Linked DNA regions of Homo sapiens. The protein of the gene in region 1 interacts with the protein of each later gene in a biochemical or structural test. Each region holds a gene or a part of one and is shown in the gene's direction. Other genes may lie near its edges. The genes, in order: LGALS8, ITGB1, TRIM17, TAX1BP1, TRIM22 and MEFV.

Region 1 (3,886 bases):
TAGAGACAGGGGTTCACCATGTTGGCCAGGCTGGTCTGGAACTCCTGACCTCAAGTGATCCGCCCACTTCGCCCTCCCAGTGCTGGGATTACAGGTGTGAGTCACCACGCCCAGCCCAGGCAACATTTTTTAGGGCCCCTCTTGTCATGTGATTTAGAAAATTTCTGCTTTAACAACTTTTTCCACAGACGTCCAGCCTTCTGAAAGCTTGAAATTAGAGCTATTTCCTAGAAAGTGGCATACTTTCAAGAAGGAAGGAACACGGGTAGATGATGAAAAGAGAATACCTGCTTGAGAGGATCCCAGGCTCCTGCAGCCTGAAGTAGTCATTCAGTTTAGCGTTAAACCTTCCATTTCTGTCCAACCACATCTCAGCCTCAACGCTGATTTTAAAGGGTTTTTTTTTTCGTATTTTTATTTTGCAAGTAACGAATTAGTGGAATGCTGACTGGGTTTAAAATTTCAACTTCACCTGCATTCCCATGTCCATGTGGATACGTGTGTTTCATAGAGTTAGAATCATAGTTCAAGTCTGGTCACTAACATTGCTGAAATTGCCACTACTCTGTCCTACTTGGTTAATTAAGGTTTTTTTTTTTCTTTCTTTCTCAAAAGCTTTAATGTTGACCTACTAGCAGGAAAATCAAAGGATATTGCTCTACACTTGAACCCACGCCTGAATATTAAAGCATTTGTAAGAAATTCTTTTCTTCAGGAGTCCTGGGGAGAAGAAGAGAGAAATATTACCTCTTTCCCATTTAGTCCTGGGATGTACTTTGAGGTGAGGTTACAGTTTTTGAAAATGGGACAGCAATAAGAATCCTGGGAGCAGGGGTGGGATAAGTGGTCCATTTAAATCAAGTCCTAACTCAGTATGTGGAAGTTGTGTATGTTTTTTGTTTACTTGGAGATTGTAATTTGCCCCTTTTTATAACGTGGGCAATCAGTATAAATGGCAAAGCCAGTAGAGTGTCAAATTATGCACATTGGAATTGACATTTGTCATCATATTAAAATTCCTGTGTAGCCCCATATTGATAGGAATTTAACCAGGAAGCTTGTCTCAGGACTGGAGTCACACATTTAATCATATAAGCAGACTTGAGGACGTGGAGACCCTAAAACTGCTTGCTTGCACTGGCCATCATCTCCCATCAGGGTAGACGGTTTCAGGTGGCAGTCCTTTCTCCTAAGGAGTTAGTCTTGTTTGTATGTATTCAAGGAAAAATACATCAGTCCCTTGGAACTAAAAGGCATGCAGTCCTGAGTCCCCAGATAGGTGAATATTGTAACACATACCTTTCCCGAAATATGTTTCTGGGATGCTGAGCAGAGAATAGTCTCCTTGTGATGCGGATGCCGGGTGTTTGGCCAGCCTCAATCACCAGCTCAGGTGCCACTGCCTCACACAGTCACTTAGGGTCATTGGTTTAGGTTATCATTCTACAGCATTTTAAACTGACACATTGTCTGGACCATGTGGGTTCTTGAGGACTCATCAAAACTCGTTACTAAAAGCATGAATATCAGGCGGAATAGATAGCAATGTGACATTCATATTTATCCCTAAGTTCCAGTCTAATGCAGTGCCCTGGTATGTGGAGTGTAGACAGATGTGGGCTAATCATGGAAGGTTCCCTGAAGTTGTGGATATTGGTTTGGAATTCAGAAAGCTGGGAAGGATGTGGAAGGCTGAAGGTTGGCTTTTCTAGATTTAGGGCATGATTTGAACAAGTCCTTAGAGGTGGGAAGGGCAGCACAGGGTTGTTAGCTTGGCAAGAGTCAAGGCGCAAAGGGTGACTTGGGGTTCACTGGAGGGAAACAGAGGTGAGTGCTCTAGAAGGAAGTTGAGCCTTGTGGTGGGTGACAGGAAACCAATGATGTAACTTGTTTTTGACCTATCTGGGCCCCAAGTTTGGATCTGCTATATTAATATAAAAAAGGATAATAATGATACATTCAAATAATGCTGAAAAATACTAAGATGAAAATACCTCCAACTTCATAATTCAAACCATACCATTAGGATTAGGTGAACCACATTCCAGGCATTTTTTTGCAGAGACAGTGAAAGGGATGGCTGGCTGAAGGAATGAATAGATGAATGTTATATGCTTTTGAACAATCGTCTTTTCCATTTAATTTTCTAATTCAGGAGCAGTAATTATCCTTGTGTTGATCACTGCTGACGATTTTCTATACTGATAGGTCCTTTCCGGGGGCTTCCATCTCTTGCCTTTTAAATATGCTTGCATTGAGATTATCTCAGGTCTTTCCATTATGCCATTACTTTCATTTTAAATCTTCTTGCTCTTTCAAATACACTTTAGTTGTATCTACAGTTTTTTAAAAACAATCTCATTCAGTGTTGTAATTTCATCTGTGGGCTCTTCCTCTGGATGAAATCCGTGTTCCAGCTGTTCGGCAGCATCAGATGGTTGTGAGGGATTCTGTTGTTCTGTTTTCTTCTAGGCAAAGGATGTGCCTTCTTTTCATTTGCAGTAGTCTGCTCACCCGGAAGCATGTCATTTCTTTGCCACTTGCTTGTAATTCACTGGCTTTGCACTTGCTCTGATACAGTACAGGTAACTAATTGACTCCCTCTGCTGCCAACTTGGTTTTCCTTCTGAGCTATAGCATCAGGCTGTGTGTTTTGTGTTTTCTTGAGATTTTGTTAAATATATCTGGGGTCCCTTCTACCTGGTTGGAACTGGGATTCCCACCATTCTTGTGGGGATAGAATCTCAGGTTACACCTATTTCCCCAATCCTCTGTAGCCACAGAAGCTTCATCTTGGCCAGCTGTTATCAGAGTGCAGGACTTGGGCTGAAATTTCCTCCCCTTCCTGATTTTCCTTGACAGTCCTTTCCACTGCTCCTATCAAAAGAATGGAAACCCTCAACTTGCTGCTTTGCAGATTCAGGTTTTGTGCTTCATTCTGGCCTCTCGGGGTGGGGCCGGGTTAGCAGCAAGGCTGAGCTGCCCCTCTTTCTTCTGAAGCCTTCATGGGGGCGAGGAGCACAGGGAGAGCTCAGTGCAGGGCCTCCCAGTGGCCTTCTCAGAGTGGGTGGAAACCCAGCCTGGCACTGGCAGCGTGGCACCAGAAGTATGAAGTGTAGGTGTAAAGGTGATGTAAAAGGCTAGTAGGTTTTTTGGTTTTTCATTGTTTGAGTTTTGGGCATAGATGACTGTGAAGGGCGAACACTGCCGATGGATCTGAATTTGTAGTATGTGCACCACTTCCAACTTACGGGATACCCAGCTTTGACGGCTTTGGACAAACACACTGAGGCCAAGATGTGCTGAGCTTATCAGGATCAGGATCACCAAGCAGCTGTAAAAACCCTAGCAAGTGCCTTAAGCTGCTGAAATTTCATATTAATTGTCTGGTTTGTTCATGGTCCTAGAGTTTGAGGCAGAAAAGTCAGTCAGGATCCAAGTCCCTTGGTTCCAGGCTACAGCTGGAAACAGCATCTCGGTGAACTAAAGCAACCATATTAGGAGTGAGTTTTCCTGCTTTAGGAGAGTCCCCAGCATCGGCGAGGAGGGGCAGCACTCTGGCTTTCCAGGAGCAAGGGGCAGGATGCGGCCGAGGGAGAGGGGCTGTGTTGAGGAAAGGAGGGCCGCAGGCCCTGGGGATGGTGTGAGGCTCCAAACATGTCCGAGTCACTTCCCTGGGTGGGATGAGGCAGACAGTGCCACCACCAGGGACACTTTAGTTAGATTAGGGTCTTGGAAGTCAGAAGGAAGTCAGCAGCAGCAGGCTGGAACTTTTCTATGTATAATCAAATGGTTTACTCTGACACCGTTAGCATGTAACAAACACAAAATTTTAAACTAAGGGGAACCACTAATGGCATGTATCCTTTCCTTTCAGATGATAATT
Region 2 (3,886 bases), on another chromosome or scaffold:
ATAAACATGTGTTGAATACCCAGATTTTATCTAATTGCTAATTAGTATGTCTGCACCTGCCCGTACAGCCTGATCTCATCTTAGACCTGGATTTTTCATATGATGATGATCTGCTTTCCAAACCTTATTTTTCCCATTTCATGCATCCCCAGCTTAACCTCTTTTTTGCCTGCTTCTCTCCACTCCTGTTGCTCTAGAGGTTTAGCAACAGAATATTAGAAAGATTTGACAGTTATGAGGCCTAAGAGCTGCCTTTCAAAAATTAGCCCTATTTTAGTGGAAACATTTAAAAATAGCACTTGCTTAAAATGTTCTTTTATTCTGTAAGCATAATTCAAGGACCATGGCATTAGGGAGCTCCTATCAAATTAGTGTTTTTTAAAATGGCCAGAATTCTAGAATATTTGTTTATTCATTTGTTCAGCATGTCATTATTGAGAGCTGGTGTGCCAAGAAAATGAATGTGAGTTATTTTTAAAGTAGGGAGGCAAAATAAAAAGATTGTCTTAGGTCTTAGTCCATTTGTGCTGCTTTAAGAAAATACTATAAACTGGGTGGCTTATGAACAACAGAAATTTATTTCTCACAGCTCTGGAGGTGAGAAGTCCAAGATCCAGGCAGATTGAGCATCTGGTGAGGTCCCTCTTCTGGGTTCATAGATGATACCTTCTTGCGATGTACTCACATAGCAGCAGGGAGACAGCAGCTCTCTGGGGCTTCTTTGATGAGGTCACTGTAGGAGTCTATTCTTACGTTGCTATAAAGACATATCTGACACTGGGTAATTTATGAAGAAAAGAGGTTTAATTGGTTTACGGTCCTGCAAGCTCTACAGGAAGCATGGCGCTAGCATCAGCAAGGCCTCTGGGGAGGCCTCAGGAAGCTTCCAATCGTGGCAGAAGGCAAAGTGGGGAGCAGGCTTCTCACATGGTGGGAGCAGGAGCAAGAGTTGGGGAGAGATGCCACACAATTTTAAATAACAGATCTCATGAGAACTCACTCACTGTGGTCAGAATAGCACCAAGCCATGAGGGATTGATCTGCCCCCATGATCGAAATACCTTCCACCAGGCCGTACCTTCAACATTGGGGATCACATTTTAACATGAGACTTGGGCGGGGACAGATACCCAAACTGTATCAGTTACTAATCCCATTCATGAGGGCTCTGCCCTCATGATCTAATCACCTTCCAAAGGAACCACTTCCTAATACCATCATGTTGGGAATTAGGTTTTCAATGTAGGAATTTTGGGGTAACACAGACATTCAGTCCATAGTAACCTACATTTGGTAACATAGATGAATTTTTTAAACAATGCAAATCTCTGTCTTTCCATCTATCCATCCATTCATTCATTTATGTACCATTTTTTTCTTGGCAGGATTTGGCTCATTTGTGGAAAAGACTGTGATGCCTTACATTAGCACAACACCAGCTAAGCTCAGGAACCCTTGCACAAGTGAACAGAACTGCACCAGCCCATTTAGCTACAAAAATGTGCTCAGTCTTACTAATAAAGGAGAAGTATTTAATGAACTTGTTGGAAAACAGCGCATATCTGGAAATTTGGATTCTCCAGAAGGTGGTTTCGATGCCATCATGCAAGTTGCAGTTTGTGGAGTAAGCGCATTCATTTCCTATCAGGGGATATTGTTTCTATTATGTGTGTGAATTTTAAGTGTGATTTTACTATGATAATAGAAAAATTGACCTTAATTTTCATAGATTTGATTATCTTAGAGAAGTAATTTTAAGTAAACCCTTAAATTGCCTGTATACATAAAGTGCCTTTATAAAAGCATATTTAATCTTTATGCAAACCACACAGTTAGTTTATTCATGCGGGCTTTTAAAAGACAGAATGCTAACCATTTGAAACAGCGGGGCAACCTCTCTGTACTGTAGCTGGTGGTCTGGATTTTAGAAAAGCCCATGTGTCCTAACTTTCTGGCTTTGTACTAGAGATAGAATTGATGTTATTATCTGAGGCATCACCAGGAACCTTGAAATTGCTCAAAGGGAGAGTGTCTTGTATCATTTTCCTTTGGTCAGTTTTCTTCTCACTGTCTTTGAAAGACACATCTTTCTCCTGTGTCTTAGTAATTCAAAAAGAGAGAACTTTTTAAGCTCTAGTTTTTAACCTATATGAATAGATGTATTTTGAGAAGTGATACAATATTTGTAATTTTAATTGTAAGATTTTCAGTAGCAAGCCCATCCCTATTGGTTCAATAATTTGTATTTTATGATCCATGTAGCAGCTATGTATTTTGAGATGACACTTTAATGATGTGGCTGAGGCTGAAACTAGAAGACATTGTCATGTCAAGTTTGTCCTGCGTACCTACTCTTGTCTCATTTTTGTTCCCTCCAGTGCCCCCATTCTCTAGATGACCTTCTTTGATTTTAGAGGCCTCTTAGTGGTTATTTTTCAGTCAATTTTTGCTAAGGTGCTAATTGATGCCCAAAATAATAAGTGAAGGAATATGGATAGTAATTAAGAATTTTTCTATCACCACTGATGCTGGGCAATTTACTCAGCCTCTCCAGGGCTGTTTTCTTCTCTTTAAGAAGGGATCATGATAGTATCTACCTCATAGGGCTCTTGTGAAGTTAAAATGCATCAATCTCTATAAAGTACCAATGAGCATTCAGCAAATACTAATTCCTATATTGTTATTACTTTCGACTTTTCACTAGAGTGTTTGCAATTTAAGGTTAGTCCCTGCTGTTATAGCCGAAGCAAGTAGCATTCCAGGTAGTACCTAGCCTTACACCTCTTTTCTTACTAGCCATTGATGTGTGAGCCTGTTAGCAGCTCGTTGTGGGGAGGGCATTCTCTGGGCTGCCTCTAACTAGGCCTTAACCTGTGGTATTAAACAAGCCATAACACCCTTGATTGTGGCTGTTTTTCTGTGTTGGTCATGCTGATCCACTCCTCTAGATGCAAAAGAATCAGACATTCCACTTTTGAAAGATTGCCAGTATTAATAAATGTGATTCCCACCTTAAAGTATTTTACTGTCTTATGAAGATCTAAACAGACGTATTAAATAAATTAACGAAAGCAGGTAAATTCCTATAGTCCTATGATTTTATAATTATAAATTACCATAGTGACAAGAAGATTTTACAGTTACTTTAGATTCTTTATTGGAAAGGGCAAGGATAAAGTAAATGAGTGCATAAACAGTACTGATTGAGGAGTTAGAATGGGTGAAATTATCCTTAAACAAGATACTTATTTCTGTTATAAAAAAAGGAAGCCTCATATGGTGGGCTGATAAAGAAGGTGCATGGCATAGAACATAGAGCAGAGATGGGTGGATGGGGACAAGACAGCAGCAGTGGGGTAAAGTAAGGATAGGCTCAGACACTTTCATTTATTCAGCAAATGCTCATCAAGGGCTTACTGCTTGCCAAGCAGTGTGCTGGCTTGCTAGCTGCTGGAGATATGATGATAAGCAGAACTAAACCAAACCAAACAAAACAAAAAAACAGTTTTTAAAAAGAACTGAGAGATTGAGAGATACGGATGGTCAGGCAAGATATCGTTGTACATGGGATGGAAGAGCTTCATTCAGTGGGCTTTGTGTGTTTCTCAGCAAGATAATTACCATTGTATAAAGAGAAGACACAGAAAATACAGAATTAGGTTAAAAATACAATGGTGGCCTATATGAAAATTAAAGGATTTTTGTTGAATTACTGTGAATAGTGTTTTAAAATTGAAATCCTTTTCTTTTCAAGTCACTGATTGGCTGGAGGAATGTTACACGGCTGCTGGTGTTTTCCACAGATGCCGGGTTTCACTTTGCTGGAGATGGGAAACTTGGTGGCATTGTTTTACCAAATGATGGACAATGTCACCTGGAAAATAAT
Region 3 (3,599 bases), 8.1 Mb from region 1:
GGGAGCAGATCACCAGGACAGGGAATCTGCAGGCCAGGGAGGAGCAGAGCTTAGCCGAGTGGCAGGTGGGTGCCCAGGGCTGTCCAGTCCCTTTCCTGCTGCTGCTCCATCTTCCTGCATTTCCACGTCTGTGTCTGCCCGTGGGGATATGCTGCCGCAGTGGCAGGAAAAGAAGAAAGTTGCCTCTACCCTTCTAGGTTCTGTGGCTGGCCTCAGAATGAAACTGACTTAAGACAGATGAACAGCAGAGAAAAAGATAAAAAGGCAATTTTAAATTACAGATGCACACATAGGGTGGAGAGAAGGGGCCTCAAAAATCAGACTCAAAGAGGCAGCCAGAGGGTAGGGGCTCAGTACCACAAAGGAGGCAGCCAGAGGGCGGGGGCTCAGTACCACAAAGGAGGCAGCCAGAAGGTGGGGGCTCAATACCACAAAGGAGGCAGCCAGAGGGCAGGGGCGTAGGTCAGCACCACAAAGGAATAGGGCTTGGGGGCCTCTGGGCTGGGGAGGCAGGTGATGTTGGTTAAGTATTTAAACAAGTGTCTCAGGTGAAGAGTTGTTTTTGGAACTCTCTTTCTGGTATAGATGCCTTGACCACTGGAAATTCCTTCATGAAAGGGCACTTTTTAATTTTTTTTTTTTTTTTTTTTGAGATGGAGTTTCACTCTTGTTGCCCAGGCTGGAATCCAATGGTGCGGTGTCAGTTCACTGCAACCTCTGCCTCCCGGGTTCAAGCAATTCTTCTGCCTCAGCCTCCCAAGCAGCTGGGACTATAGGTGCCCACCACCATGCCCGACTAACTTTTGTACTTTTAGTAGAGATGGGGTTTCACCATGTTGGTCAGGCTGGTCTTGAACTCCTGACCTCAGGTGATCTGCCTGCCTCGGCCTCCCAAAGTGCTGGGATTACAGGCATAAGTCATCGCGCCAGGCCAGGCACTTTATTTTTTTAGGCAGCTAATGGGGGAGGCAAACAGGTTTTCCTGCTTCTGCGGGTTCTCAATGGCCTTTAGTTAACCTTAATCCTAATGCCTGTCAAAACACAAAATTAAAACAGATTTAGAGATCTTTGTTGTTATTTTTTGTTTTTTTCTTGAGTCAGAGTCGCTCTGTGGCCCAGGCTGGAGCACAGTGATGCAATCATAGCTCACTGCAGCCTCAAATTCCTGGACTCAAGTGATCCTCCTGCTTCAACCTCCTGAGTAGCTGGGACTACAGGCACTTGCCACCAAGACCAGCTTTTTTTTTTTTTTTTTTTTTTTTTTTTGTAGAGACAAGGTCTTGCTATTGCCCAGGCTGGCCTTGAACTCCTGAGCTCAAACTATCTTCCCGCCTCAGCCTCCCAAAGCACTGGGATTACAGGCGTTAGCCACTGCACCCAGCTAAGAGAAAAGATTTATTTGCAAGGCCACTGAGTGAAGAGGAGGGAGAACAGCTCTTAAACCTGCCTCCCAAGTGATACAGCTTGGGAGTCTTTATGAACTACGGAGGCAGGGTGGTCCAGCAGGCCCATTCTGTGCAGGTGTCGTCGGGGTGCATGGCATTTCACAGGACACAGGTACCAGAAACGGCAGCCTTAGCATGATCTGAGGTTGGAAGTTTTGGCCCTCTCACATCAAAAGGCCACCTCGGGCACTGGGACAGGTCCACTTGAAGGGCAGATGGTCTCAACTGGTTTCAGCTGGACAGGAGCTGCCCCACATTCCTGAAGCGACCAGTCCCATGGTGACCTGTGAATATTATCTATAAAGAGCCAGTGAAGGGTGGGCGTCAGCATTCAGAGGCACAGCCTTCAGCTTCATGGAAAAAGGAAAAACAAAATAACAAAAAGCAATCAGGGCAGGCTGACCTGATCAGTGAACCCCTTGGTTTCATTAGCACCAGTGACTCCATTCTGGTTGGGTCTGGTCTTCTAGGACCCAGCGCAGGAGCCCAGTTCAAAACAGTGGCCCCTGAGGATCACCTGAGCCCAGGAGTCTGAGACAGCAGTGAACCATGATCATGCCACTGAACCCCAGCCTGGGCAACATAGCAAGACCCTGTCTCTACAAAAAAATTAAAAATTAGCTGGGCATGGTGGTGGTGACACATGTCTGTCGTCCCACTTCCTTGGAAGGCTGAGGTGGGAGGGTCACTTGAGGCCAGGAGGTCAAAGTTGCAGTGAGTTGTGGTTGTGCCATTGCACTCCAGCCTGGGCAACAGAGCAAGACCCTGTCCCTACACAAAATTTAAAAACTAGCTGGATGTGGTGGTGCATGCCTGTGGTCCCAGCTACTCAGATGACTTGAGCCCAGGAGGTCAAGGTTGCAATAAGTGCCACTGCATTCCAGCCTGGGCAACTGAGCGAGACCCTGTCTCAAACAAAACAAAACAAAAAACAATGGCCACCCATAAATTTTGTTTAACATGCCCAAGAGGCTTATCTGGGGGTGGACATTCTGAACCTCCTCAGAGCAAGGGTGCATGGGTGTTTGGATGTGTAGAAGTTGCAGTTCGGGGCTCGGAGGGTTACACTCAGTGTATCACAGGATGGCAGAGGTGGGGGCCTCTGTCACAGTTCCTGGTCCCCAACTAAAGCTCCAGTTGCTGGTGATCTTGTGGGTCACCAGGGCCCTGGGGAGAGGTGCCAGCATCCCTGGAGCTGAGCCACCTGCTGGCAACATGCTGGGCTTCTCCACTCCTGCAGGGCAAGGTGAAGGAGCGGAGAGAACGCATTGTGCTGGAGTTTGAGAAGATGAACCTCTACCTGGTGGAAGAAGAGCAGAGGCTCCTCCAGGCTCTGGAGACGGAAGAAGAGGAGACTGCCAGCAGGCTCCGGGAGAGCGTGGCCTGCCTGGACCGGCAGGGTCACTCTCTGGAGCTGCTGCTGCTGCAGCTGGAGGAGCGGAGCACACAGGGGCCCCTCCAGATGCTGCAGGTGAGCCAGTAGGCTTGGCAGGCAGGGTGGGATGTGAGCTCTGACAGGCATGGGCAGGGGGCGCTGGGCTTGGGGAAGAGGCAGCCAACGGGAAAGGGCTGTTAGCTCCCAGTCTGCTAGTCCTGGAGGCTGGGTGGCTGAGGCCAAGGTGCGGGCAGGCCTGGTTCCTCCTGAGCCTCTCTCCTAGGCCTGAAGATGCCGTCTCCTCCCCGCGTCCTCATGGCATCATCTCTCTATGCACGTCTCTGTCCTAATCATCTCCTTGTATAAAGACACCAGTCAGACTGGATTAGGGCCCACCCCAGTGACCTCAACTCCCTCCTTAAAGATGCTATCTCCAAACACAGTCACATTCTGAGGTCCTGAGGGTTCAGGCTTCAACCTGTGAATTAGTGGGGACACAAGTCAGCCCCTTACAGGTTCCAACCTGAGACAGTGTCCCCATTTCCTTCCAAGTCCAGAGAGGTGGCTTGGGACACCTGGCAGCCAGGTGTGGCTTTGGGACAGGGACTCCATGTCTCGGTGTGGAGGAGGTGCACTGTCCCAGGAGTGAGTTGTGTGGCAACGGCAGTGGGGAGGTGAAGCAGCCAGCCTGTCTGCCGGGACCAGCCTGTGTGCCATGGCCCTGGAGAGGGGGCTTGATTACGGCTGATAAGACGCCATCTCTACAAAAACTTAAAAAT
Region 4 (3,886 bases), on another chromosome or scaffold:
TGTAAATGCTACCTGTTCATTTTTCTGATGGCTTTAGGTTACCAGGTAGAGAGTATTCATAGTTAAGTCTTTCCATGAAATATGGTTGCTGGTAGCAAAGTCCCTTTATTAGTGCAGAGGTAAAGGGGGATTGCTACTGAATATACTCTTTATCTTGGAATGCTTGCAAACCTCAGGTAGGGAGAGGCTGACAACTAGCCTGATACTCTACAGTGGTTTCCAGGTTCATGATTGACAGTCTCTTTTTGGGATATCCATTATATTCAGTAAAGCAGGACTTTGGCCATAACAGAAGCAGAGGGGACACAAGAAGAAAGTTGATATTTTTTAAAGTGCTTATTATTACAAAACTTTAAAAATTTGCCTTAGTATTTCAAACAGGTCAGCAAAAGAAACAGTTGTAAAAGCACACTGTTTTAGATCTTAGCAATAAGCCTTCTTACTAATGGCTAAAATATGAGTAGAGCCTTACTGCTGTGCTTGCTCTGTAGAAACTTCATTGATTTGTGAAGTAAATTAGATTAATTTGGTTAGCAAAAACCTTGCCCCAGTTTTCCCCATTATTACAGAGATGCCTGTTTTAATGACTCAAGCAAGTGCAGTCAGGACAGTCATAGTTTCTTATGTGTATTGTAGAATTAGTGATTGTACGGAGCCTGTGACAAACTCTACAGATTGCTTTTTTGGGTAAATCCTCATTTGTTTCTGTTTTCTCAAAAGTAGAGCACAAAATAGGGAAAACATTTGGATCTTGCAGTTTTTATAATCTGCTTTCACCATTCATCTGCTATCCAGTGCTTGGTGTTTACTAAGCCAGTGAGCGTTCATGAATCTCTAAGAGATTTTCAACAGTGTGTATTTTATTAACACTACACTTTTATTTTTATTTTTAAATATAAGTTTATTTTAATCAGTAAACATGTGGAAAGGGTACGTGAATACTAGAAGTTGAGGTAGGATCATTGATTGGACCTATGATGAAATGATAGGTTTGTTATAGGTGGAGAAGAACAAATAGGCTGAGCCATTTCAAGTAGACCAGCTAAGATTTTACATGGTTTGAGAGATTTGAACAAGCTTGTAACAGAAGCCCAAGAAGACAGGCTGGGTCTGGGATCTGTGGAAATGAGTGAGAGGTAGAAGTTGTTGGATAGTGGTTCTCTTTTCTGGTTGCATACAGGATTGAGATTACTTGGGGCGATGTAGGGGCAGGGCTATGTATATTCGTATACACACCCACAGACACACATGCACACACTCCCAGGCCCCAATCCCAGAAAGTTGTTGTCATCTATTTTTTTTTTTTAAAGGCCCCTAATGATTCTAATGTGTAACCAGGGTTGAGAAATGCTGGTCCAGGGGATTAGAAGGGCAGGAATGTAGGCACAGAGATGTTAGCGTCAGGTTTAGTTATAGGACCCCAAAACCTAGGGAGAGGGGAAGAGATGAATGGGATGGGCTAGGTTAGGGAGGAGAATGATGAAGCCCAAGGGTTCTACATAGGAAGGAAATGTTAATTGACCCATAGCCAGTAAAATACTGACTTTTAACTGTTCTTGTTTCTGTTTCTTAGTGTTTGTTACTAGGAGCCAGCAGGTTTATATTGGCAGCGTGTGCACAAAAACACCTCTGGTTCATTTGCTTTTGATTTAAATAGAAGCAGAGGGCTAGGCTTTCCAGGAGAGTTAATTTTTGGTTTTGGTTTTTTAACTTTTAAATGCCCATATAACTTTCTGAGCCAAATGGGTTTTAGTTATTTTTCCAGTTTGTCTGTATTTTTATATTTAATCAATTTTTAAGAAGTTCCAGTATTTACAAAGTATATATTTTCTTAATTATGACATGCAAATATTCATGAAACTTATATTAAATATTATGTATTTTCTGAAGGCATAAGTTTATTCTTAGTTGGTATAATTTAACTTGTATGAATTACTTGTTTCAGATTCACAATGACATCCTTTCAAGAAGTCCCATTGCAGACTTCCAACTTTGCCCATGTCATCTTTCAAAATGTGGCCAAGAGTTACCTTCCTAATGCACACCTGGAATGTCATTACACCTTAACTCCATATATTCATCCACATCCAAAAGATTGGGTTGGTATATTCAAGGTAAGAAAGCTTTCTGAATATGTTCTCCATGTAAACACTTAAAATTTTCTTTTAAAACAGATTGATAAGTAGCTTTTACTTGCCTTAACTCTGCATTAAGACTCATTTTTGTAAACATCACCATGAAATATTTAACAGTGGGGAGTAGATAAAATGGATGTTGGGAACTCCATTTCACCAGATTTTCCTCTCCCTGATCAGAAAGTTTACCTTCACTTAAGGACTTGTGAAAATTTTTTCAGAATCTTCTTTTCCTATTTTCTCCATTCATTACCTGCAATAAAAAAAGATCTTTTTCTTTGGGTTCTTATATTATTTACCATTTTTTCCAGTCATTTGAAATTAATTTTATACAGCTTGACAGCCATGTTATTATCCCTTCTACTGTCCTGCATGGCTTAAATATTGCTCAGATTGTATTACACAGTTTTAAGAGTATTCTGTTTGTATTACACAGTTTTAAAGTATTCTGTTTAACATGACTGAATAGTAAACTCTTTGATGGCAGGAGTTCTAGTTCTTATATTTTACCAGTGATTTTGTATAATACTTTCTTGAAAATGAAGGTGATCATTACAGTGGTACACCTCACTGTGCAGGACTTTTTCTGGCAATTTTAACTCTTCAAAATGTAGTGGAAAACCAAAACATAAGAATGTCCTCTGAGCAGTCAAAATAATGTCACGAATGTCCAAACAGTAAAACACATTCACTTTTCTCCTGTGTTATTCTGTAGTCTTCCTCAGAATCAGTTTGTTTTATTTTAGTTAAGATTTTTATGGGCTTGAAATTTTGATTGTCTAATCTGTATAAAGTTAAACAACAAGGAAGAAAGAAATGAATAGCTGCTAGAAATTAGGCACATTGAAAGTGTCTAGAAGTAAAAGTCCAGCCTGACGGGAAGGCAGAAAAACATTTGGACAAAACAATTTTGGCATTTAATGACTTAGTTCCTTTCTTTGAATTCCTCATTTCTTGATGTTTCTGAATACAACACAATAGTTATTTACTGTTTACTTTTTGTGTCAGTTTTTTAGGCTTGTCAAATCCCAAAATGGAGAAACATTCATTGTAACAATTTTATGAAATTAGGAGTAGTTTTTAAATTTTATTTCTTATTTTTTGAGACAGGGTCTTATTCTATCACTCAGGCTGGAGTGCAGTGGTGGGATAGTGGCTTACTGCAACCTGACCTCCTGGGCTCAAGTGATCCTTTCCCCGCAGCCTTCCAAATAGCTGGGATTATAGACACAACACCACGCCTGGCTAATTTTTAAAATTTTTTGTAGAGACAGGGTCTCACTATGTTGCCTAGGCTGGTTTTAACTTCCTAGGCTTAAGTGATCCTCCTGTCCCAGCCTCCCAAAGTGCTGGGATTACAGGTGTGAGCCACCGCACCTGGCCTCAGTAGTAGTTTCGATTTTATGGGAGATACTGGTATCAAGTTAAAGATACTGATTGAGAACTGATGTTTTCTGTAGTAACAGAGCAGAGAGGAAGAAAACAGAAATGTGACTGAGGAAAAAGAAGGGCATTTCCAGCAGGAAAATGGTACAGGTTGAACATCCTAAATCTGAAAATCTAAAATCTGAAATGCTTTAAAATCCAAAACTTTTTGAATGCTGACATGATGTGCAAAGGAAATGCTTATTGGAACATTTTATGTTTTGGATTTGGGATGCCCAACCAGTAGGTATAATGCAAATACTCCAAAATCTGACAGATTTAGAAATCCAAAGCACTTCTGGTCTCAAGCATTTCGGATAAGGGAT
Region 5 (2,673 bases), on another chromosome or scaffold:
GCTCACTGCAACCTCTGCCTCCTGGGTTCAAGCGATTCTGCTGCCTCAGCCTCCCAAGTAGCTGGGATTACAGGCGTGTGCCACCACGCTTGGCTAATTTTTATAGTCTTACACCCTGTATTTCTTAAGGGTCCTACTAACCTCTGACTATCAACACAAGTTCCGTTTGATATCGACACAAGTTTCATTTTCAATATGTCTCTTCTCAATGCTGTAAGACACACCTATCCCATATCCTTCACTTGACTTGGTAATTTTTTCTACAGTGGACGTGATGCTGAATCCAGGCAGTGCCACTTCGAATGTTGCTATTTCTGTGGATCAGAGACAAGTGAAAACTGTACGCACCTGCACATTTAAGAATTCAAATCCATGTGATTTTTCTGCTTTTGGTGTCTTCGGCTGCCAATATTTCTCTTCGGGGAAATATTACTGGGAAGTAGATGTGTCTGGAAAGATTGCCTGGATCCTGGGCGTACACAGTAAAATAAGTAGTCTGAATAAAAGGAAGAGCTCTGGGTTTGCTTTTGATCCAAGTGTAAATTATTCAAAAGTTTACTCCAGATATAGACCTCAATATGGCTACTGGGTTATAGGATTACAGAATACATGTGAATATAATGCTTTTGAGGACTCCTCCTCTTCTGATCCCAAGGTTTTGACTCTCTTTATGGCTGTGCCTCCCTGTCGTATTGGGGTTTTCCTAGACTATGAGGCAGGCATTGTCTCATTTTTCAATGTCACAAACCACGGAGCACTCATCTACAAGTTCTCTGGATGTCGCTTTTCTCGACCTGCTTATCCGTATTTCAATCCTTGGAACTGCCTAGTCCCCATGACTGTGTGCCCACCGAGCTCCTGAGTGTTCTCATTCCTTTACCCACTTCTGCATAGTAGCCCTTGTGCTGAGACTCAGATTCTGCACCTGAGTTCATCTCTACTGAGACCATCTCTTCCTTTCTTTCCCCTTCTTTTACTTAGAATGTCTTTGTATTCATTTGCTAGGGCTTCCATAGCAAAGCATCATAGATTGCTGATTTAAACTGTAATTGTATTGCCGTACTGTGGGCTGGAAATCCCAAATCTAGATTCCAGCAGAGTTGGTTCTTTCTGAGGTCTGCAAGGAAGGGCTCTGTTCCATGCCTCTCTCCTTGGCTTGTAGAAGGCATCTTGTCCCTATGACTCTTCACATTGTCTTTATGTACATCTCTGTGCCCAAGTTTTCCCTTTTTATTAAGACACCAGTCATACTGGCTCAGGGCCCACCGCTAATGCCTTAATGAAATCATTTTAACATTATATTCTCTACAAAGACCTTATTTCCAAATAAGATAATATTTGGAGGTATTGGGAATAAAAACTCCAACATATAAATTTGAGGAAGGCACGATTTCACTCATAACAATCTTACCCTTTCTTGCAAGAGATGCTTGTACATTATTTTCCTAATACCTTGGTTTCACTAGTAGTAAACATTATTATTTTTTTTATATTTGCAAAGGAAACATATCTAATCCTTCCTATAGAAAGAACAGTATTGCTGTAATTCCTTTTCTTTTCTTCCTCATTTCCTCTGCCCCTTAAAAGATTGAAGAAAGAGAAACTTGTCAACTCATATCCACGTTATCTAGCAAAGTACATAAGAATCTATCACTAAGTAATGTATCCTTCAGAATGTGTTGGTTTACCAGTGACACCCCATATTCATCACAAAATTAAAGCAAGAAGTCCATAGTAATTTATTTGCTAATAGTGGATTTTTAATGCTCAGAGTTTCTGAGGTCAAATTTTATCTTTTCACTTACAAGCTCTATGATCTTAAATAATTTACTTAATGTATTTTGGTGTATTTTCCTCAAATTAATATTGGTGTTCAAGACTATATCTAATTCCTCTGATCACTTTGAGAAACAAACTTTTATTAAATGTAAGGCACTTTTCTATGAATTTTAAATATAAAAATAAATATTGTTCTGATTATTACTGAAAAGATGTCAGCCATTTCAATGTCTTGGGAAACAATTTTTTGTTTTTGTTCTGTTTTCTTTTTGCTTCAATAAAACAATAGCTGGCTCTACTGAAGTCTCATTCTTCAGTTTCCAAAATCTTGCTGCAGATAATATGAGTTTCCATATGTCCAGTAAAGAAGGTCATGTCTAGGCTCAGCTGTCCTTGATAAGAGACAGCCTTATGCTGTTCAGATCTGTTTCTCGTAATGAAACACTTGTGTGTACCATTGCATTTACCATCCTAGGTACTTTTCTTTTTTTTTTTTTTTAAGTCTTTTTTCAAACACAGGATGAGTAGTAGAACTACCTAGGATAGCAAAGACACAAAACATTCTTGAAGAAATATATTGTATTAGTCGGGGTTCTCCAGAGAAACAGAACAATAAGAGATATGTATTTATTATGAGGAATTGGCTTACTTGATTATGGAGGCTAAGACTTCCCATTATCTGCCATTTGGAAACCAGAGACCCAAAAGCTGGTGATATAAGTCAGTGTGTCTCTGAAGCCCTAAGAACCAGGGAGCTGATGGTATAAATGCCAGTACAAAGGCAGAAAAAGATGAGGTGACATGTCTCAGCTCAAGTACTGCGGCAGGAAAAGAAGCAAATATCTTCTTCCTCAACCCTTTCTCCTACTCAGATCCTTTATGGATTAGATGATG
Region 6 (4,476 bases), on another chromosome or scaffold:
CGAGTGGATCGCTTGAGATCAGGAGTTCAAGACCAGCCTGCGCAACATAGTGAGACCCTGTCTCTATAAAAAATACAAAAATTGGCCAGATGTGGTGGAATGCACCTGTAGTCTCAGCTACTTGGGAGGCTGAGGTTGGAGGGTTGCTCAAGCCCAGGAGGCAGAAGTTGCAGTGAGCCAAGATCCCACTACTGCACTCCAGCCTGAGTGACTGAGCAAGACCCTATCTAAAAATAAAAAAATTAGGGTATGCAACGGTCAGAAGTAGGTAAGTGAGGAGTCAGTTCACCCTACATGTAATTTTTCATTTATTTATTTTTTTTGAGACAAAGTCCCGCTCTGTCGCCCAAGCTGGAGTACAATGGCGCAACCTCGGCTCACTGCAACATCTGCCTCCCATGTTCAAGTGATTCTCCTGCCTCAGCCTCCTGAGTAGCTGGGAGTACAGGTGCGTGCCACCATGCCTGGCTAATTTTTGTATTTTTAGTAGAGATGGGGTTTTACTGTGTTGGCCAGGCTGGTCTTGTACTCCCAACCTGAGGTGATCCACCCACCTCGGCCTCCCAAAGTGCTGGGATTACAGGCGTTAGCCACTGTGCCCTGCCCCCAACATGTAACTTCTGTTAGCTTCAAAGCCACCTCTGGGGCCCTGCACCACATATGAGCTGAAGGACACCCGTGCCTTTTCACCCGTGTAGCTCCAGCATCTTGGCACACTGTCTAGAATGTTCAATGAATGTGCACGGAAGAGCATTCTGGCTCCAGGGAGCGAGGACTGAGTCAGCTCTGGGAACAGATGAGTCAGGCTGGTGGTCCAGGCATTGCTTTTCAAGTCCTTCATGTGGCTGGAAGAACCAGTCAACTGGAACCGGATCAACAGGGGTGATGGCATGGCAAGAGTTATCTCCTGGCAGTGCCCTTCTGGCCTCACTTGCCTTCTTGGGCCAGGAAAGGCAAAGCTCACAGGACTGTATTCAGTGCCCACCCCTTCCCCCGTCCTGTGCCATTGGCTCTGGAAGGTCCCTGAAACCCCGAGTCTGGAGGAGAACAGTTGACCAGCAGGGCGGGCCCTCAGCATAGTCCTCTCTGTTCCCACTCACCCGCTCTGCCAGCCCCAGATCCTGGCAGGAAGGAAGATTGGAGGGGGTGTCTGGAATCCAATCCCAGACCTTCCCTTGCAGACTTGCCCATCTGTCTGTGGTCTAGTGTGGAGGCGAGGTCCAGGGTTTGGGAGGGGTGTGGGGGCACATGTCTGCCAAGGCATGGAGCCCTCCCAGCTGGAAAATCCTCTGAACCTGTAAGAAGAGAACACAGCCGGCATGGACACACCCTTACCCTTAGTCTCAGTTCCCACCAAGACACAGAGCATTTCCTGTGCCTTTTCCGCTATTTCACAACCTGCCTTTTCTTGCTCACCAAGGACAGAGGCTTCTTTTCCTACCAGAAGCCAGACAGCTGGCTCGAGCCTCTCCTGCTCAGCACCATGGCTAAGACCCCTAGTGACCATCTGCTGTCCACCCTGGAGGAGCTGGTGCCCTATGACTTCGAGAAGTTCAAGTTCAAGCTGCAGAACACCAGTGTGCAGAAGGAGCACTCCAGGATCCCCCGGAGCCAGATCCAGAGAGCCAGGCCGGTGAAGATGGCCACTCTGCTGGTCACCTACTATGGGGAAGAGTACGCCGTGCAGCTCACCCTGCAGGTCCTGCGGGCCATCAACCAGCGCCTGCTGGCCGAGGAGCTCCACAGGGCAGCCATTCAGGGTAAGCGGGCCCAGGCCTCCTCCTCATCCAGTGCTGAGTGCTGGCTGCTTTGTGGGAAAGGGGACCAGGAGCTCAGAGCAGCTCACTCTGACCTGGGGATTGGGAGTCTCAGGTCTACCAAAATCCAGATGACTTTAGTTCAGGAACGTCCCTTTCTTCACTCTGGCCTTTGGAACTGGGTTAGTAAACTTCCTTCAGGCTCCTAATGGGTTTTTTAAGAAGCAGGTCAGGGTCACGAAAGGCAGGAGCTGGAACACCTGTTCTTTGAGACTTCTTCACTACATTTATGATTAATACTCATGTCAGACAAACATCTCTAGGTTAGCAAAAAGGGATTGCTATGCAATCATATGAACGGGGTTGGTATAGAATCTTCTCAGTGCTGTTCACCATGTTGGCCAGGCTGGTCTCGAACTCCTGACCTCAAGTGATCCTCCCGCCTCAGCCTCCCAAAGTGCTGGGATTTCAGACATAGGCCACCGTGCCCGGCTTATTTTTATTTTTAAAGCGTATAATCTGGGTTTTGCTGACCTGTGTAAGATCTTATTTGAAACAGTTGTCCTGCTTAAAACGTTTGAAAAGTACTATTTGAGAAATATAGGCTAGGCATGGTGGCTCACACTTATAAATAATCTCAGCACTTTGGGAGGCTAAGGTGGGTGGATTGCTAGAGCTCAGGAGTTTGAGACCAGCTTGGGCAACATGGTGAAACCCTGTCTCTACCAAAAATACAAAAAAATGAGCCAGGCGTGGTAGCACACACCTGTATTTTCAGCTATTGAAAAAACAGAAAACAGGCTGAGGTGAGAGGATTGCTTGAGCCTGGGAGGCAGAGGTTGCAGTGAGCTGAGATCACATCAGGGCAACAGAGCAAGATCCTGTCTCAAAAAATAAAATAAGAGAGAGAGAAATACATAGCAACATCAAGCATGTTCTTACTGAATGGTAATTGACTGCCATTGTCTAGTCTAGGAAGTCCTGAACTTTTGTTTTTGAGATGGAGTCTTGCTCTGTCACTCAGGCTGGAGTGCAGTGGCCCGATCTCAGCTCACTGCAACCTCCACATCCCGGGCTCAAGCGATTCTCATGCCTCAGCCTCCCGAGTAGCTGGGACTACAGGTGCGCACCACCGCGTCTGGCTGAGTTTCTTATTTTTAGTAGGAACGGGGTTTTGCCATGTTGGCCAGGCTGGTCTCGAACTCCTGACCTCAAATGATCCTCCCACCTTGGCCTCTGGAGAAGCTGGGATTACAGGCATGCGCCACCACGCTCAGCTTATTTTTGTATTTTTAGTAGAGACGGGGTTTCACCCTGTTGGTCTTGAACTCCTGATCTCAGGTGATCCTCCCGCCTCGGCCTCCCAGAGTGCCGGGAATACAGGCATGAGCCACCGCGCCCGGCCCGTTGTTTTCCTCAATTTCTAAACTTTAATATCCAAGGGGATTCTCTCTCCTCTGCCCTGAATCTTGGGCCCTAAACGTGGGACAGCTTCATCATTTTGCATCTGGTTGTCCTTCCAGAATATTCCACACAAGAAAACGGCACAGATGATTCCGCAGCGTCCAGCTCCCTGGGGGAGAACAAGCCCAGGAGCCTGAAGACTCCAGACCACCCCGAGGGGAACGAGGGGAACGGCCCTCGGCCGTACGGGGGCGGAGCTGCCAGCCTGCGGTGCAGCCAGCCCGAGGCCGGGAGGGGGCTGTCGAGGAAGCCCCTGAGCAAACGCAGAGAGAAGGCCTCGGAGGGCCTGGACGCGCAGGGCAAGCCTCGGACCCGGAGCCCGGCCCTGCCGGGCGGGAGAAGCCCCGGCCCCTGCAGGGCGCTAGAGGGGGGCCAGGCCGAGGTCCGGCTGCGCAGAAACGCCAGCTCCGCGGGGAGGCTGCAGGGGCTGGCGGGGGGCGCCCCGGGGCAGAAGGAGTGCAGGCCCTTCGAAGTGTACCTGCCCTCGGGAAAGATGCGACCTAGAAGCCTTGAGGTCACCATTTCTACAGGGGAGAAGGCGCCCGCAAATCCAGAAATTCTCCTGACTCTAGAGGAAAAGACAGCTGCGAATCTGGACTCGGCAACAGAACCCCGGGCAAGGCCCACTCCGGATGGAGGGGCATCTGCGGACCTGAAGGAAGGCCCTGGAAATCCAGAACATTCGGTCACCGGTAAATTGTGTTCTTTCCTACTTTATATCGGCTGCAGAGAAAGAATGGCTGGCCGGGCACGATAGCTCATGCCTGTAATCCCAGCGCTTTGGGAGGCCAGGGCGGGAGGATTGCTGGAGGCCAAGACTTTGAGACCAGCCTGGTGAATGTAGTGAGACCCCCGCCATCTCTATAAACGAAATTAAAAAAATAAAAACCCAAAGGTTGGGCAGGGCGTGGTAGCTCTCGCCTGTAATCCCAGAGCTTTGAGAGGCCTGCACGGGAGGATCTCTTGACCCCAGGAGTTCCATACTAGCCTAGGCAACACAGTGAGACCCCATCTCTACAAAATACAATAGTGGCACGCGCCTGTAGTCCCAGCTGCTCGGGTTCACTTGAGCAGACGGAGTTCCAGGCTACAGTGAGCTGAGATCATGCCACTGCACACCAGCCTGAGCAACGTAGCCAGACTCCACTTCTACAAAACTAAAAAAAAAATTAGCTGGGTATGGTGGCACACGCCTGTAATTCTAGCCACTCAGGAAGCTGAGGCAGGAGGATTGCTTGAGCCAGGGAGTTCCAGG

The links.
Region 2: the proteins of LGALS8 (region 1) and ITGB1 form a complex in vitro, tested with the Homo sapiens proteins (one study listed by BioGRID).
Region 3: the proteins of LGALS8 (region 1) and TRIM17 form a complex in vitro, tested with the Homo sapiens proteins (one study listed by BioGRID).
Region 4: the proteins of LGALS8 (region 1) and TAX1BP1 form a complex in vitro, tested with the Homo sapiens proteins (one study listed by BioGRID).
Region 5: the proteins of LGALS8 (region 1) and TRIM22 form a complex in vitro, tested with the Homo sapiens proteins (one study listed by BioGRID).
Region 6: the proteins of LGALS8 (region 1) and MEFV form a complex in vitro, tested with the Homo sapiens proteins (one study listed by BioGRID).

Annotation. Positions count from the first base shown.
Region 1 is NC_000001.11:236,544,135-236,548,020, forward strand, and holds part of LGALS8 (galectin-8), read left to right. Parts: intron 1-615; coding exon 616-781; intron 782-1,027; coding exon of another isoform or gene 1,028-1,087; exon of another isoform or gene 1,088-3,827; intron 3,828-3,877; coding exon 3,878-3,886.
Region 2 is NC_000010.11:32,923,609-32,927,494, reverse strand, and holds part of ITGB1 (integrin beta-1 isoform 1A precursor), read left to right. Parts: intron 1-1,385; coding exon 1,386-1,624; intron 1,625-3,754; coding exon 3,755-3,886.
Region 3 is NC_000001.11:228,410,263-228,413,861, reverse strand, and holds part of TRIM17 (E3 ubiquitin-protein ligase TRIM17), read left to right. Parts: coding exon 1-65; intron 66-604; exon of another isoform or gene 605-2,685; coding exon 2,686-2,916; exon of another isoform or gene 2,917-3,177; intron 3,178-3,599. UniProt on the Homo sapiens protein: E3 ubiquitin ligase that plays important roles in the regulation of neuronal apoptosis, selective autophagy or cell proliferation.
Region 4 is NC_000007.14:27,746,573-27,750,458, forward strand, and holds part of TAX1BP1 (tax1-binding protein 1), read left to right. Parts: intron 1-1,945; 5' UTR 1,946-1,952; coding exon 1,953-2,114; intron 2,115-3,886.
Region 5 is NC_000011.10:5,708,787-5,711,459, forward strand, and holds the end of TRIM22 (E3 ubiquitin-protein ligase TRIM22), read left to right. Parts: intron 1-266; coding exon 267-862; 3' UTR 863-2,077; downstream 2,078-2,673. UniProt on the Homo sapiens protein: Interferon-induced E3 ubiquitin ligase that plays important roles in innate and adaptive immunity.
Region 6 is NC_000016.10:3,253,595-3,258,070, reverse strand, and holds the start of MEFV (pyrin), read left to right. Parts: upstream 1-1,437; 5' UTR 1,438-1,483; coding exon 1,484-1,760; intron 1,761-3,280; coding exon 3,281-3,913; intron 3,914-4,476. UniProt on the Homo sapiens protein: Involved in the regulation of innate immunity and the inflammatory response in response to IFNG/IFN-gamma.